Linked DNA regions of Homo sapiens. The protein of the gene in region 2 interacts with the protein of the main gene of each other region in a biochemical or structural test. Each region holds a gene or a part of one and is shown on either strand. Other genes may lie near its edges. The genes, in order: LRP5 and CAPRIN2.

Region 1 (7,275 bases), on a different chromosome or scaffold from region 2:
CCCACCCCGCTGTGTCGCCAGGGCTCATCACTTACCCTCTCTGAGCCTCAATGGTCCCACCTCTACCATGGGCATGCCCGCACCTGCCCTGCAGCCTGCCAAGCCTGGGCCCTGGCAAGGCTGCCTCTAAGGAGAACGAGGCCTCTAGAGCCTGCTAGCTGACCTTGGCCAGGAACTTACTTGACCTCTTCGAGCTTTAGTTTCTCATTGATAAAAGTGGGGATGAAATAGTACCCATTTCGAAAGTGAAGGATACATGAGATTCTGCCTGGAAGGTGCTAGAAACAGTGTCCGACAAAACAGGAGACTGGACAACTGTTCACCTAACACTGTTACTGTAAATGTTGGCAACCGATAGGGTTTGGCTGTGTCCCCACCCAAATCTCATCTTGAATTGTACTCCCATAATTCCCACGTGCTGTGGGAGGGACCCAGTGGGAGATGATTGAATCATGGGGGTGGTTCCCCCCATACTGTTCTCGTGGTAGTGAATAAATCTCACTAGACTTGATGGTTTTACAAGGGGAAACCCCTTTCGCTTGGTTCTCATGCTGTCTGTTCCCTGAAGCCATGTAAGATGTGACTTGCTCCTCCTTGTCTTCTACCATGATTGTGAGGCCACCCCAGGCAGGTGGAACTGTGAGTCCGTTAAACCTCTTTCCTTTACAATTACCCAGTCTTGGGTATGTCTTTATTAGCAGCGTGAGAACAGGCTAATACAGCAACCAATGGGCCCGGAACACTTCCATCCTGAGTTCAAGCAACCTGACTCGCAAGATGGCTCCTGACCTCCCATCCTCCCAGAGGCTACCTGCACCCAACTGTGGCCCAGAAACGCCGCATCCCACTGTGTGAGTTCAGACTCGGAACTGTGGTGTGTTTAGGAGCCCCCGTCCTGTCACAGAGGGGCCTGCAATGGGTGGGAAGGTGCAGCCAACACCGGGTGTTGAGAAAAGTGCAGCAGGACAGGATACTCCTCTTGGGGCCCAGCTGCTGTGAGGTCAGACGGCGGGCGGGGGGAAGATGTGTCCGCGGTGGGCCCAGAGCAGGACGGGCATGAGCAAAGGCAGGAGGTGGGACGAGGAACTAGCGAGACTGGGCTGCCCAGTGTGGATGTGACCATTCTGGAGACAGTGGTCTGTAAGGCTGTGGGACAGACTGTGACAGTTTGATATAATACTGAGGCATCAGGGAGGTGGCCCGACCCGGAGTGGGGTGGAAATGGAGGCTGCAGTTCCGGCTCCCCAGCCAGGCCTGGGAGTTCGTGGAAATGGCCACTAGGTGGCAGGCGGCACCACACTCGGGAGGCCCTGCTGCTCCAGGGACCCAAGCAATGAGGAATGCGTGGTCCAGAGGTGTCCTGGCCCAGGCCCAGCCTATCCCACCCCTTCACCTGCGGGGGTGGGGCCTGGTGCGGCTGGCGGGTGGGCCACGTTGCCTGACACCACTGGGTTAAAGGTCAGGAGGCTCACCCTGCCCATCCCAGGCTCTGATCCAGCCCCTGCGGAGACCAGCACACCTGGGTCCCACCTCTCCACACTCTCAGTTGCCCCTCCCCAACCAGGGAGGTGGGGCCTGTGACCCCAACATGGGCAGCTCGGGGGGCTGGTGTCCAGCTGAGCAGCCCCGTTGGCTTCCCGGGCTCAAACAGGCCACTGTGGCAAGTGAGCAGCCCGGACCATCCTGGTGACGTCACACGATTAGGGGTCTACGGTGGGTGCTGCAGCAGCCTTCACAGACTTGTCCCATCCTAAGAGGACAGAGCCACCAAGAGGGGGCATCTCAATGGCTAGGTTTCCACAGCCGGACTCAAACACACAGTCAGACTCTGGAGCCCAAGCCCCCGGCCCCTCGACGCCACAGCCATTTCCCAGCTTAAAAGTAACCCCCATAGGAGCAACTTGAAGAGCAGCTCAGAACGTGGAGTTCTGCTGATTTCTGAACCCAACATGCAGTGCCCGCTGAGCTTGTCTGGGGAGGCAGCCTAGTGTGGTTGGCAGAGCAGAGGGAGGCAGGGCTGGGCCCGGCACCTGCCCACTAGCACCCAGAATACCTCCCCTCATCAGTGGCATGGGGATTAGGCCCCTCCACCACGGGCTGGCGGGAACCCAATGGCCATGGAGGGCTGCAGGGGATGTCCTACCTGTACGGTCTCGCAGTGGCCGGAATGTTTGAAGAGTAGAACATGTCCATGTTGTACAGGGAGGGGTCCGTGGCCGGGGAGGGCGGCGGGTTCAGGATCTGAGGAGAGCCAAGCCAGGGTGACTTAGAGCCTCGCCAGCCTGGGCATTCCTTCCTTCCTCCCACACCCCTCGGGCTTTCCTTGCAGAGAGGGCTTCTGGCCCCCCTGCTTCCCAGGACCCCTTCCTCTGGCCAGTTGGCAAAACCTGGGGACAGGAGGGGAGGCAGCAGCCACCTGCCCCGAAGGTCATCTCAGTGAAAGGCAAAGGGAACCCAGGCACTTTTGGCCCAGGTGCCCGCGCCCTTCCAAGTACCTGCCTTGTGACCAGATGCTGGGCTGTGAAGGCGGGGACAGGACTTCGGCCAGTTCCCTTTGTGGCTGGCCCCCAGCAGTAGGAGATGTCCCCACAGGCCCTGAGTGTCCTCCACACCAGTTAGCACCTCACCAGGCTCCTCAGGGACCTTCCCAGGAACTCTCCTTCTGACCTTTCCTCCTGCCCCTCCTCCCTCCATCACACACAGTCTAACTCCTGCAATGACGCCCTTGTTCCGAACACTCAGGGGCTCTGCGTCCCTGCTGAAGCCCTGACACAGAAGTCACCACGCTGAGGGAGGGGCCACAGTCCCACTCCAGACAAAGGCACCCCCTTCACAAGGGCCTGTGCTGGCACCAGCCCCAAAGCGGGGATAGTAAATAGACAAATTCACCACGTGAACGTGCCCCCCAGGTCCAGGCAGCACACAACCAGCCCTACAAAGGGAGGAAGGGACCAGGGGCCCTGGGCCCACACACCCACACAGGTCTGCACCTTCCACAAGTGCCACTGACGGCACCCCAACCCAACATGCAGCTTCCCAAAGGGTGTAGGGCTTATGTGGGTCTCCAAGGCCATCCTGGAAAGCATACAGCCAGATCCGAGCCCCTGCGGAATAATGGGAACAGAACTGTCAGTTATGCCCGAGGGACTCAGTTCTCTCAGGCCCCCTAGGGTGGTACAAGAACACTGCCTTTCACGCCAGACAGACCCGGGTGAAGTCCTGTTTTACCACCTTCTGGCTGCAGCAGGATCCCTGGGGAGGGAATTTACCTCAGCCTCAGTTTCTTCAACTTTAAAATGGGCTTGACCTAGCACTTTGGGAGGCCGAGGCGGGCGGATCACTTGAGGTCAGGAGTTCGAGACCAGCCTGGCCAACATGGTGAAACCTCATCTCTACTAAAAATATGAAAATTAGCCGGGTGTGGTGGCGGGCACCTGTAATCCCAGCTACTTGGGAGGCTGAGGTGGGAGAATCCCTTGAACCCTGGAGGCAGAGGCTGCAGTGGGTTGAGATCGCACCACTGCACTCCAGCCTGGGCAACAGAGTGAGACTCTGTCTCAAAAAATAAATTTAAAATTAAATAAAATAATAAAATAAAGTAATAAAATGGGCTCGAGAAGGCCTGCTTCCTGGGGCTATCCTGATGGCTGGTGAGTAGCCTCTGGGGAGTGGCCAGGCCCTTCCCCTGCCCTTTAGGAAGCCGCACTGGGCCCTGCTCTTTCTGGAGAGGGTCCTCTTTGGCCCAGAGAGCCAGTCTGGGTATTCCTCAGGATTTGACCCCAACGTTGAGAGGGCATGAGACTGGGGGCACTGGGGAAGATGCTTCAAAGCAGAGAGCAGGCAGGGAGGCAGCAGAGAGGGCTTCCTACAGCTGCCCAAGCCCCAGCCTATGGGGTCTGTTTCCACCTCTTCCCATGAACTTGACCAGGCCTGGTTTCTCTCCTACATCCCAAGGCAGTTTGAGATTCTGCCCAAATCTGCACTGGGCAGACTTCTGGCAAGATCCACCAGTGCAGCGCCTCGGCAATGTCTCAGATGTCCCGTGAACCACGGCCAGGCCCTATTCAAAGAGGACTGGATCTCGGCCCAGGGTGGGGGGTGGGGGGTGGGGGCTGGGGAGGCCACTCGGCTCATCTGCTATTCCTGCGTTGTTGTTGTTTTGACTGAGTCTCGCTCTTGTTGCCCAGGCTGGAGTACAATGGCATGATCTCGGCTCACTACAACCTCTGCCTCCCAGGTTCAAGTGATTCTCCAGCCTCAGACTCCCGAGAAGCTGGGATTACAGGCATGCGCCACCACACCCAGCTAATTTTTTTGTATTTTTAGTAGAGATGGGGTTTCACTATGTTGGCCAGGCTGGTCTCGAACTCCTGACCTCAGGTGATCCACCCGCCTTGGTCTCCCAAAGTGCTGGGATGACAGGTGTGAGCCACCATGCCTGGCCTATTCCTGCATTCTTAGAGTTCTCTGTACATCTCACTGTTCAATTTCTGCTATTCCAGTCCCTGGTAATAAGCCTGTAGACGGAACTTTCTCTGTTCAAATTCTCATAGAGTTTCTGCCTCCTGATAGACCCCGACTAATTCACGCCACCCATAAGCCATCAGCCAAGAAACAAGCTGGATGCCCACCTTGCTCATCAAATCTAATTACATCCCAGAAGAATTAAAGATGTGAACGTAAAACGAAAGGAGGAGGACGTTAAGAAAGAGAGTGTGGGCTGGGCATGGTGGCTCACGTCTGTAATCCCAGCACTTTGGGAGGCCGAGGTGGGTGGATCACCTGAGGTCGCGAGTTCGAGACCAGCCTGACCAACATGGAGAAACCCCCGTCTCTACTAAAAGTACAAAATTAGCCAGGCATGGTGGTGCATGCCTATAATCCCAGCTACTCGGGAAGGTAAGGCAGGAGAATCACTCCAACCCGGGAGGCGGAGGTTACAGTGAGCTGAGATTGCGCCACTGCACTCCAGCCTGGGCAACAGGAGCAAAACTCTGTCTCAAAAAAAAAAGAGAGAGAGTGTGAAAATAAGTTGTTTTTTATGATCAGAGCAGGGAAGGCCTTTCTGAACATAACCAAAAAAAAAAAAAATATATATATATATATATATATATATATATATATATATATATGCCATAAAAGAGGAGATTGATAATTTCTTTTCTTTTCTTTTTTTTTTTTTTTTTTGAGACAGAGTCTCGCTCTGTCGCCCAGGCTGGAGTGCAATGGCGCGATCTCGGCTCACTGCAACCTCCGCCTCCCATGTTCAAGCAATTCTCATGCTTCAGACTCCCAAGTAGCTGGGATCACCATACCCGGCTAATTTTTAAATTTTTACTAGAGACGGGGTTTCTCCATGTTGGCCAGGCTGGTCTCAAACTCCCGGCCTCAAGTGATCCGCTCATCTCAGCCTCCTAAAGTGCTGAGATTACAGCTGCAAGCCATCACGCTGGGCCCAAAGGTTCTTAAACACACAAAATGATGCTTACATCATTCATGATAAAATAAATATAAATGAAGATCTTAACATGATACCATTTTTACTCTATATTAGACAGGTGGAGAGAAAGGGTGCCAGGGACCGTTTTGCCAGTGTGGCCCTCTGCTGAGAAAAGATGGACTGTCCCTTTCAGAGGGCCACTTGGCAGGAGTGGTTGAAACAGCCAAGGTTCAACCGCAGCAGGAGAGAGGACCATGATGCCCTCCAGTGGGGGCCCAGCCACGCCTGACAAGGAGTGCTGTTCAGCCACCAAGAATGTGACGGCTGTGTCCTCAAAACAGAACAAACTTCAGGGTGCGGGGGAAGCAGAGTAGAAGGTGGTTGTGAGTTGGATGGCCTGGCCCCACTGCCTACCAACCGAACGACCCAGGCCAGTGGTTCATGCTCAGTTCTTCAGCCTCCTTGTTGCAAAATGAGGAAAACAATAGCACCTCCTCCCGGAGATGGGTTACGGTAGAGCTCTAGGCAGGGTGCACACGGCAGCTGGGAGCCTCCGAAATGCTCAGAACAGCAGCTTTTATACATCGTTAGCAGCAAAAGGCAAGGCTCAATGTTGACTCTTCAGATGCTATCTTTCGGGCTTACGAAAACACATATGTCAGCCCAGGCGCAGTGGCTCATGCCTGTAATCCTACCACTTTGGGAGGCTGAGGCAGGAGGATCACTTTAGCTCAGGAGTTCAAGACTAGCCCAGGAAATTTAGTGAGGCCTCACCTCCACAAAAAATTTAAAAATTAGCCTGGCATGATGGTGCACACCTGCCATCTGAGCTACTTGAGGGGACTGAGGCAGGAGAATCGCTTGAGCCCAGGAGTTTGAGGCTGCAGTGAGCTGTGATTGTGCCACTGCACTCCCACTGGGTGACAGAGGAAGTTTGTCTCAAGAACAAACAAAAAACACTTATGTCAATCTGAATAAGGTGAAAGAATCGTTATCAGTGTCTTGCTTATGATAGGAATGGAAGTCATGCAAGATGGCAGGCAGCACTGGGGGAAACCAGGCAGAGGATAAATGGGTCTGTGCTCTTTCTCACAACTGCACATAAATCTACAATTATCTTCTGGCTTGGAAAACAAAGTCCACGCTCTTGTATGCTTGCATATGTACAGATGACCCCTGGGGGGACATAGAAGAAACACACTGCAGGAGGCCATGCCTCCCAGGGAGTCCTGCTTGGCGTCATGGGGGCGGAGTCTCTTTGGACTGCAGACTCTTCTGTATCTTTTGAATTTTGTACCATGAACATATATTTAAAGGATGCAAAATAACTTTGCTAATTTAAAAACAGCTGGCTTCATGCAGAGTTTCTTTTAGGGGCAGGAAAATGTTCTAAAATTAACTGTGGTGAGGGTTGCACACATCTGTGAATACACTAAAACCCACTGAACTGTACCCTTTTTTAAGTGGGTGAGTCATATGGTTAAACAATAAAGTGATTTAAAAAATTAGCTGGCTGCTCAGTGCCATCTCTTATTGCCTGATTAAGATCCTCCCAGCTCCCAAGGGAGAACAGGAAAAGAGAATTCGTGAGCTGCCTGCTGTGTGCTCGGGGGCCCTGCTTGGGTTCCTAGCACTCCTGGCTGGTTAAGCTGGGTTGCAGCAGCAGGAGCAGGGAAGAAGGGCAGTGGGTGTTTAAACTCTCGGCTTCTGGTTACCAGTTCCCTTTGTCCCTAAACAAAGCCAGGCCCTGGGGCCTCCAGAACACTCAGTTACTGTCCAGGAAACCAAGAAGAACCCTCTTCTGCTACTTCCTTCCCAGGGCCCACCACAGTCAG
Region 2 (7,275 bases):
CAAAAAGCCCAAGCTTTGAAGCATCAGACCAGATTTGAATGCAGGCTCTTTTGTTAGTTACTGTGTTAATCACTGTTCTACACTTCATTGTGGTAATCACACCCGTAGTTAAGACCCAAAAGCCTCAACACTAGATTTAGAGTCCAAAGGAGTCAAGCAACTTCTAGTCAGAATTCACTCCACCAACAACATAAATTACAAAAACAGCTATTGAGTATTTCCATTCACCCATCCAGAGCCTTTCTCCAAAAAATGAAAACAAGTCAGTTAAGTACACTAATGTCCTAATGGTAATTTACCCACATATAACTGGTAACAGATGGATACAGTTAGAATAAATTAATACACCAACATATTAGGACATCTAAAATAAAATCATTTGAAAAGACAACAACAACAAATAGCTGTTAGCTCAAGACGTTTGCTCCAAGTCTTTAGAATGATTACATACCTACGGGGCTACCTGGAGTAGCTGAAGGCGGTTGTGACGTTGGAATTGCACTTGAAGGTTTGTCAAAGTCAAGAACAGACTCCTAAAGATATGATTTTAAATAAAGAGTGGAAACAGAGATTACTCATTTAAAAGCTATTACCATTGAATTATTCATGATGCTGCCTATAGTCTATTAGCTACACATAAATATCTAGCTAAAGCTATAGGTATCTAGCTAATCACTGTCTCAGGATGCCAAAACTAGTCTCCATAGATAAAGAAATTAAGAATTAAAAATAAAATCTAAAGTAACTGCCATAACTTAAGGCTGTGTAGAGTGCTAAAACCACAAGAGTAGGCCGTGCGCAGTGGCTCACACCTGTAACCCCAGCACTCTGGGAGGCTGAGGTAGAAGGATCGCTTGAGCTCAGGAGTTCGAGACCGGCATGGAAAAAAAGCGAGACCTTGTTGCTACTAAAAATTTTTTGAAGAATTAGCTAGGCATGGTGGTATGTGCCTGTAGTCCCAGATGCTCAGGAGGCTAAAACAAGAGGATCGCTTGAGCCCAGGAATTCGAGGCTGCAGTGAGCTTTGACCACACCACTGCACCCTAGCCTCGACAAGCAGAGTGGGACCCTGTCTTTAAACAAAACAAAACAAAAGCCTACAATACTAAATCTAAGGCCTAAGTCAGAAAAGAAACTCTTGACCTTACTAAGGTCCTAAACATAGCCATCAATCCTAGTCTAATCAGAACCCCCATTTTTATTACACCCAACCAAAGAGCATCTATTTATCTCAACCATTTACTAGCTCATGCTGTTAAAACATTTTCAAGATGAGAAATCACGCTCTTGTATCTGCCTATCTCGGTTCTCTCAGAAAAGTTTCCAGTATTTTGCATACTTAAGCTACACATTTGCAGGGAGCATTTTAGTTCTTACATCTTCAACTAATCTGATGGTATAGGCAATTCCTACATTTTGCAAATAAGTGTTGGAGGTTAAATAAACAGCTGGTAAGTAACAGAATTTAAACCCAGGCCCATATTCAAAGCTCAGGATCTTTTACTAAACAAAAATACTTATTTGACTACTTTAGCCCTCAGTAATCTCATACCATTCTCAAATTCTGTGTCTGTATCTCACAACTTAAACATATTGTATAACACAATTTATCATTTAACTATTGATTTAACATAAATTTACAATCTTCTACAACTGGAATATAAATTCCTTGAAGGCAATGAATGTCTCATTTTCTGTATCTGTACTACAATGGTATCTAACAATATCAGGCACAGAGTAGGTTCTCACAGTTCTCAGTACTGATAATCTATAGCAGTAATGATCCTTGAGCAAGTTAAGCTTTTCACATGCTTAATTCATTTTTTTTTGTTCTAACAAACTTAGAAAGTAGGAACAATAATCCTCATTTTTCAAATAAATAAACTGAGGCAGAATCAAGTAATTTGCCTAAACTCCAGGCTAGGAGAGCTAGGAGGCAGCAGAGCCAGGACTTGACAGAATAATCTATGCTCTTAATAATTTCACTGTAATGTTTCCAGTCAGAAGCCCCATGAATATCATTTAAGATTTTGTAAATGACTCATACTTGCATAAAGTTACAAGTTCCTTGAATCTGAGTCATCAGATCCTGCAGTTTTTCTTTCCTCAATACTGGATCCTTCGGAAGGGTAGAGGAAGAACCTACAGGCTGATGCACAGGCTTAGGCACCTACAAGATAAACCCATAATGTGTAAGAGTGAAATGCAAATTCAAGAGCCTAATCTAGGAAACAGTTTATCACTACATCTTAAAGGAAAAGAAAAAACAGCAATGTTCACTTATCACAGGTAAAGAATTTTCTCATAAATACCTTTTCTAAATAAGCAAACTTTAAACAGATTTTTCCCCTTCACAATTTTCATGGAACTCTTTCTAAAACACAAAATATTCCTTTTAAAGGGAAGATCCAGCAGAACTTCCTTGTTAAGAGTGTTTTCATTATGGACATGAGTTACCATATGTCCTCTAGGATAAGATGCCACTGACAATAAGACATACCAATGATTTTTTTTTCCAGGGCAAAAATTACTACTACCACATTAAATGTACATCCCAGTTTTAAGATGTATCTGATTTCAGAAATCAAAATGTAAATACATATATAAGTACATACATACACATACCCTAAAATTGAGAGGGATACATATATTTTGTTATAAAGTAAGTACACTCTTGGGGGCTACTGATATCCATCCTAAATTGCTTAAAATTGATGCACATTCTGAATTAGACCAATTTACAGTTACTTTTTATAGCTGTCAACATGCCAGTCTCCACTAGCTCCTCTTCTCCACCTTCTAATCAAAGAAGACACACAGCTAAGTTTGTCAAAGGTACCAGATAAAATAAGAGTTAAGAGACCATAAGTGAGTACATATGGGACTCTTTTAGGAGGAAGGTATGAACATCAGTGATTAATTTCATGTTATCTAGTCTTTTGGCTTTGAACTCTATTCTGCACTTGACTGTACTTAGTCAATATTCTAGACAGCTCAGATTCCAAGAAAGACAGAAAAATACTATATTACACATAGAAGTATCCTCTCCTCTCAGTAACTGAAAAACCCTACAACTTCAATATAACGCTATCTGTCCCACAAAAGCAAATTAAATATGTTTTGACCTTTCCAAATATGTAACACTGATTTTAAATGCAATTCATCAAATAGCATGATAATATTCTGGTATGATAAAGGTTCTGCATTGCTACACCTACTGGAATTTTAAGTCAGGTTTTTAAAAGCAGCTTTGAGATATTAAATTGGGTTTTTAAATGTTTTTCAAAATAGTTACATTACAGTTACTGTTGTGTGATATTTGGTTAATAAAATAAAGCTGACAATCTTCTGTAGGGTCAGGAAGAAGCTAAAATTAATATTAGCAACTTGAGAGAGAAAGGAGAGCAAAATAGCCAAATAACTCTAAAATTTTGTTCCCATACAGAATTAAGCCAAAGGTAATTTACTTATAAAATGCAATGCTTTGCTTTCCCCAAGCAAAATGTTTTTCATATTATTATATTAGAGGTCCAATGGTTTATCAGAAAGCCTTTAGCTAAAATGGCACAGATGTGCAAGGAAGACTACTCCATAGAGATAGAGAACACTGGAAGCACAAGTTCACATATCTCAGCAAATGAGGTGGTAACAAGTTTGCATTATAAATAGTAGTAAATAAGTAATTTACAATTTAATAAAAGGCAACCCTAACATAGCACTGTACCCAAGAATTATTCAATGTAAGTGTTATCTACCTGAAACAGGTTATTTATCCTTAAAAGAATGTGGCCTTATGTTTTAACTGAATCTTGTTCTCCAAAACCTAACTACAAAATATTTAATGCCAACAGTTTTCCTATCTTTGGAAAAATTCTCATTTTGAAATGGAAATAGAGAACTAATTCAAATCCTTCCCCCAATACTGAAATATCTGCAACCACCATAAACCTTCTTCATAAAGACCTGGGCTAAACTGAGTGACCATAAATGAGTAGAAGAGAAGCAAGAGAATATAGAAAAATATAACTTGTCAGAAAAAGTTATTCGTATAGCAGGTAAATGACAACAAATGAAATACAGTATCTCCCATCCTGTGACAAGCATTTGCATTACTCACTTGTTCACATTATGTCATTATGGTCTTATCTAAACTATCTACTATTTTCATATCATGTTATATTGTTAAAATTTGGCATTAAAACAACATTTTATAATTGCAGAAATTTCATCTCAGATTAGACTTAAAGACAGACTAGATTAACTCCCAGTTTTCAAGGGAAAACAATAAATCTACCCACTAAAGAGGGTGAAATATTTTATACATTAACTTCACATGGGCTTTGAAGAGAACTAAGGCCGGGCACAATGGCTCACGCCTGTAATCTCAGCACTTTGGGAGGCCGAGGCGGTTGGATCACGAGATCAGGAGATCCAGGCCATCCTGGCTAACACAGTGAAACCCCGTCTCTACTAAAAATACAAAAAAATTAGCCAGGTGTGGTGGCATGCGCCTGTAGTCCCAGCTACTCAGGAGGCTGAGGCAAGAGAATCGCTTGAATCCAGGAGGCGGAGGTTACAGTGAGCAGAGATAGTGCCACTGCACTCCAGCCTGGGTAACAGAGTGTTTCTCCATCTCAAAAAAAAAAAAAAAAGAGAACTAAAAAGTCATTACCACGACACCTTATTTATGCCTACACTTACAGAAGCAGAATGATACAGATCAACTCACATCTTTGGGTTCTGTGTTCAACTTCCTGGGCAGCAGCTGGTCATTTGGTATGAGGCTTGCTGTAGCTACTCCCCAGGACTTTGGAGAAATCTGTGACTGTGATGTTAAAGAGTGTTTTTGACTCTCAACATTGTTTTCCCAGGATTTTGGAGTCTCTGGCTGTTTTGAATCCTGTTCTTCACACATGGGAGTGGTCCATGACTTGGTGGTGTTCTGTTCGCTCTGCATGGAAGGTGTCCAAGACTTTGGAGTTTGCTTCTTTGGATCTTGTTCTTTCTGCAGCTGAACTGGCCACAGCTTTGGTGTCTCCTGTTTCTTTTGTTCCTCTTGAACATACCCTGCTTTGGATTTAGGTGTATCTTGCTTCCACTGGCTAGGAGATGGCTTGGATTTGGAGATCTCCTGCTTCTTCTGCTCTTCCGGCAGAGTAGACCTGAGTTTTGAGGTGTCTTGTTTCCTCTGTTCTAAGGAAACTGCAGGCTTGGATACCTCCTGGTGCTTACCAGAAGCCTCCCAGGACTTAAAGGACTCCTGTTTCTTCTCTTGACCATCTGGTTCAGTAAGCATATCCCAACGTTTTGGGAGATTTGGTTTTCTAGCATAATCTGCTTCCCAAGGTTGCTCTTCGCCTTGTTTGTTTGAATAATCTACTTCTGTCATATAGCGTCTGTTAAGAAACTAGATAGAGAAACAATGCACTTAAGTCACAAAATTCATAGAAGACCTTGGAGGGAATATTCAACTCTATTAGTATTGCTATGTCCTCTGATCTAAGTTGTTGCACTAATATTAAATTTCTGTCCTTATTCTACTTGAAAAGACTTTCCTACTTCTCTTTCCTACTTTCCTACTTTTCTGTCCATTCCTTTTTCCTCAATTAACAGAAATACAGACTTCGATACATCAAAAGTAGCAACTTCTGTTGGACTTGCCTAAGACTGGCAAGAATTGCTTGATTCGGATTCTTCTACCAAGGCTGTTCCGCCTTTGCCAGCCTTAGGACCATTCTCCCCAGTTGACTCCCTCAAACATTAAAAGGCAGAAGATAGTTCAACTTCAAAGTTAAATTATGTAACCTTAAACGTGACATTTCCTAAGTTACCAGTGTTTTCTTTATTTCCCTTATACATCAATGACACTGTTTTTGAATCTCCCATTCTTTTCAGCTTCCCATGAATTTCAATGTCACTTCAGAAAGAGAACAAATACCCTTTTCTGCTACCAATGTGAGTAAATTCTGGAGAGAGCAAAGTCCTGCGCATCTTAAAGTTCCTCTAACACAGGAGCCAAAAATAGCTATCATTTGGGCAGTTCGTGTGCCAGACCAAATTCTAAGTAATTTAGAATTTAGATCAACCTCTTTAATCCTCACAATAACCCCATGAAGTAGTCATTAACGTTATCCCTATTTTACATATGAGGATAACAGACACAGCTGGACCAGATTTCTTGCCCAAAGTCCCTAAGCTAGTAAACTGCAGAACCAGGGTTCAAGCTCAGGCAGTCTGGCTCCAGAGCCTTAGCTTCCAACCATAACCCTATGCAAAAGGCTGAAAAATCAACATCAGCAAATTGTCTTTCAGTATCTTACCTCTTGTGGTTGTATCTCTGGCTGGGCAAATTCCATTAGAGACTCTGGGATGATAAAAAGAATCTGAATAAATACTAGGTGAACTGTAAGTTTTTAGACAGATTACAACTATAATTCATTCTAGCAACATATTTCAGAAGACTCGTAACAGAAAAAGGGTAATATAATCAAGTATATTGATGGCAAGAGGAATTATATTCCTTGTTAGTCCAAAGCATGTGGTCTGAGGCTAGTTCAAACTAGTAGCTCTCCTTATGTAAGACACTTTACGAAAGTCAAGTTTCAGTTTAAAACTGATATCTGATTGAAAATAACACTATTTCTTCTTACCCTAAAACACAGCTTTTTTTCAAGTTAGCATTATAGCTCATGTCCCATGGGGTAAAAATTGGTCATCTCAGCTTGAAATAGAGCCCTTAAAAACCTCTTACAAGCCAGTTTAAGGTTAGGAGGGGATAAGAGAGTGGAGATACTTAAGCACTGCACTTAGTATTAAGAACTAAGGGGAAATAAACATGGAAAATGGTTTCGCTCTTGCTTATGGCTACCAGAACCCTGCCTGGACTACCTCCTGAGAAGAGGTATTTCTTTAATAAATCCAACTTTGGTAAACAAAAGCAGAAGTGCCACTTGCTCAAAGTATTTCTTCCCCAGGCAAATGATAATTTTAAAAGTATATTTTCTTTACTGACTTTAGCACTTTTTTCCCCTGAATCAGTATTTCGACCTTAGGTTAATTACATCCTCATTCCACTACAGTACTGGTTTCTACTCTAACTTCCACTGTAAACAATTTTAAACAGAATTATCCTACTAGTAGTTTAACAGAGAAGTTTATTCAAATTCCATAAATGGCTCCTTTTAACCAATGTATTCTTTTGGGACAAAGTACAAATTAATATTTCTAATAAGTTTCACTCGGTAAATCATGGTGATAAAGCCTAGAGATGTTTTA

The links.
Region 1: the proteins of CAPRIN2 (region 2) and LRP5 form a complex in vitro, tested with the Homo sapiens proteins (one study listed by BioGRID).

What each region holds. Positions count from the first base shown.
Region 1 is NC_000011.10:68,441,402-68,448,676, reverse strand, and holds part of LRP5 (low-density lipoprotein receptor-related protein 5 isoform 1 precursor), read right to left. Parts: intron 3,105-7,275; coding exon of another isoform or gene 2,975-3,104; intron 2,242-2,974; coding exon 2,144-2,241; intron 1,751-2,143; coding exon of another isoform or gene 1,693-1,750; exon of another isoform or gene 1,520-1,692; intron 1-1,519. UniProt on the Homo sapiens protein: Acts as a coreceptor with members of the frizzled family of seven-transmembrane spanning receptors to transduce signal by Wnt proteins.
Region 2 is NC_000012.12:30,723,919-30,731,193, forward strand, and holds part of CAPRIN2 (caprin-2), read right to left. Parts: intron 6,365-7,275; coding exon 6,321-6,364; intron 5,408-6,320; coding exon 4,730-5,407; intron 2,171-4,729; coding exon 2,048-2,170; intron 534-2,047; coding exon 452-533; intron 1-451. UniProt on the Homo sapiens protein: Promotes phosphorylation of the Wnt coreceptor LRP6, leading to increased activity of the canonical Wnt signaling pathway.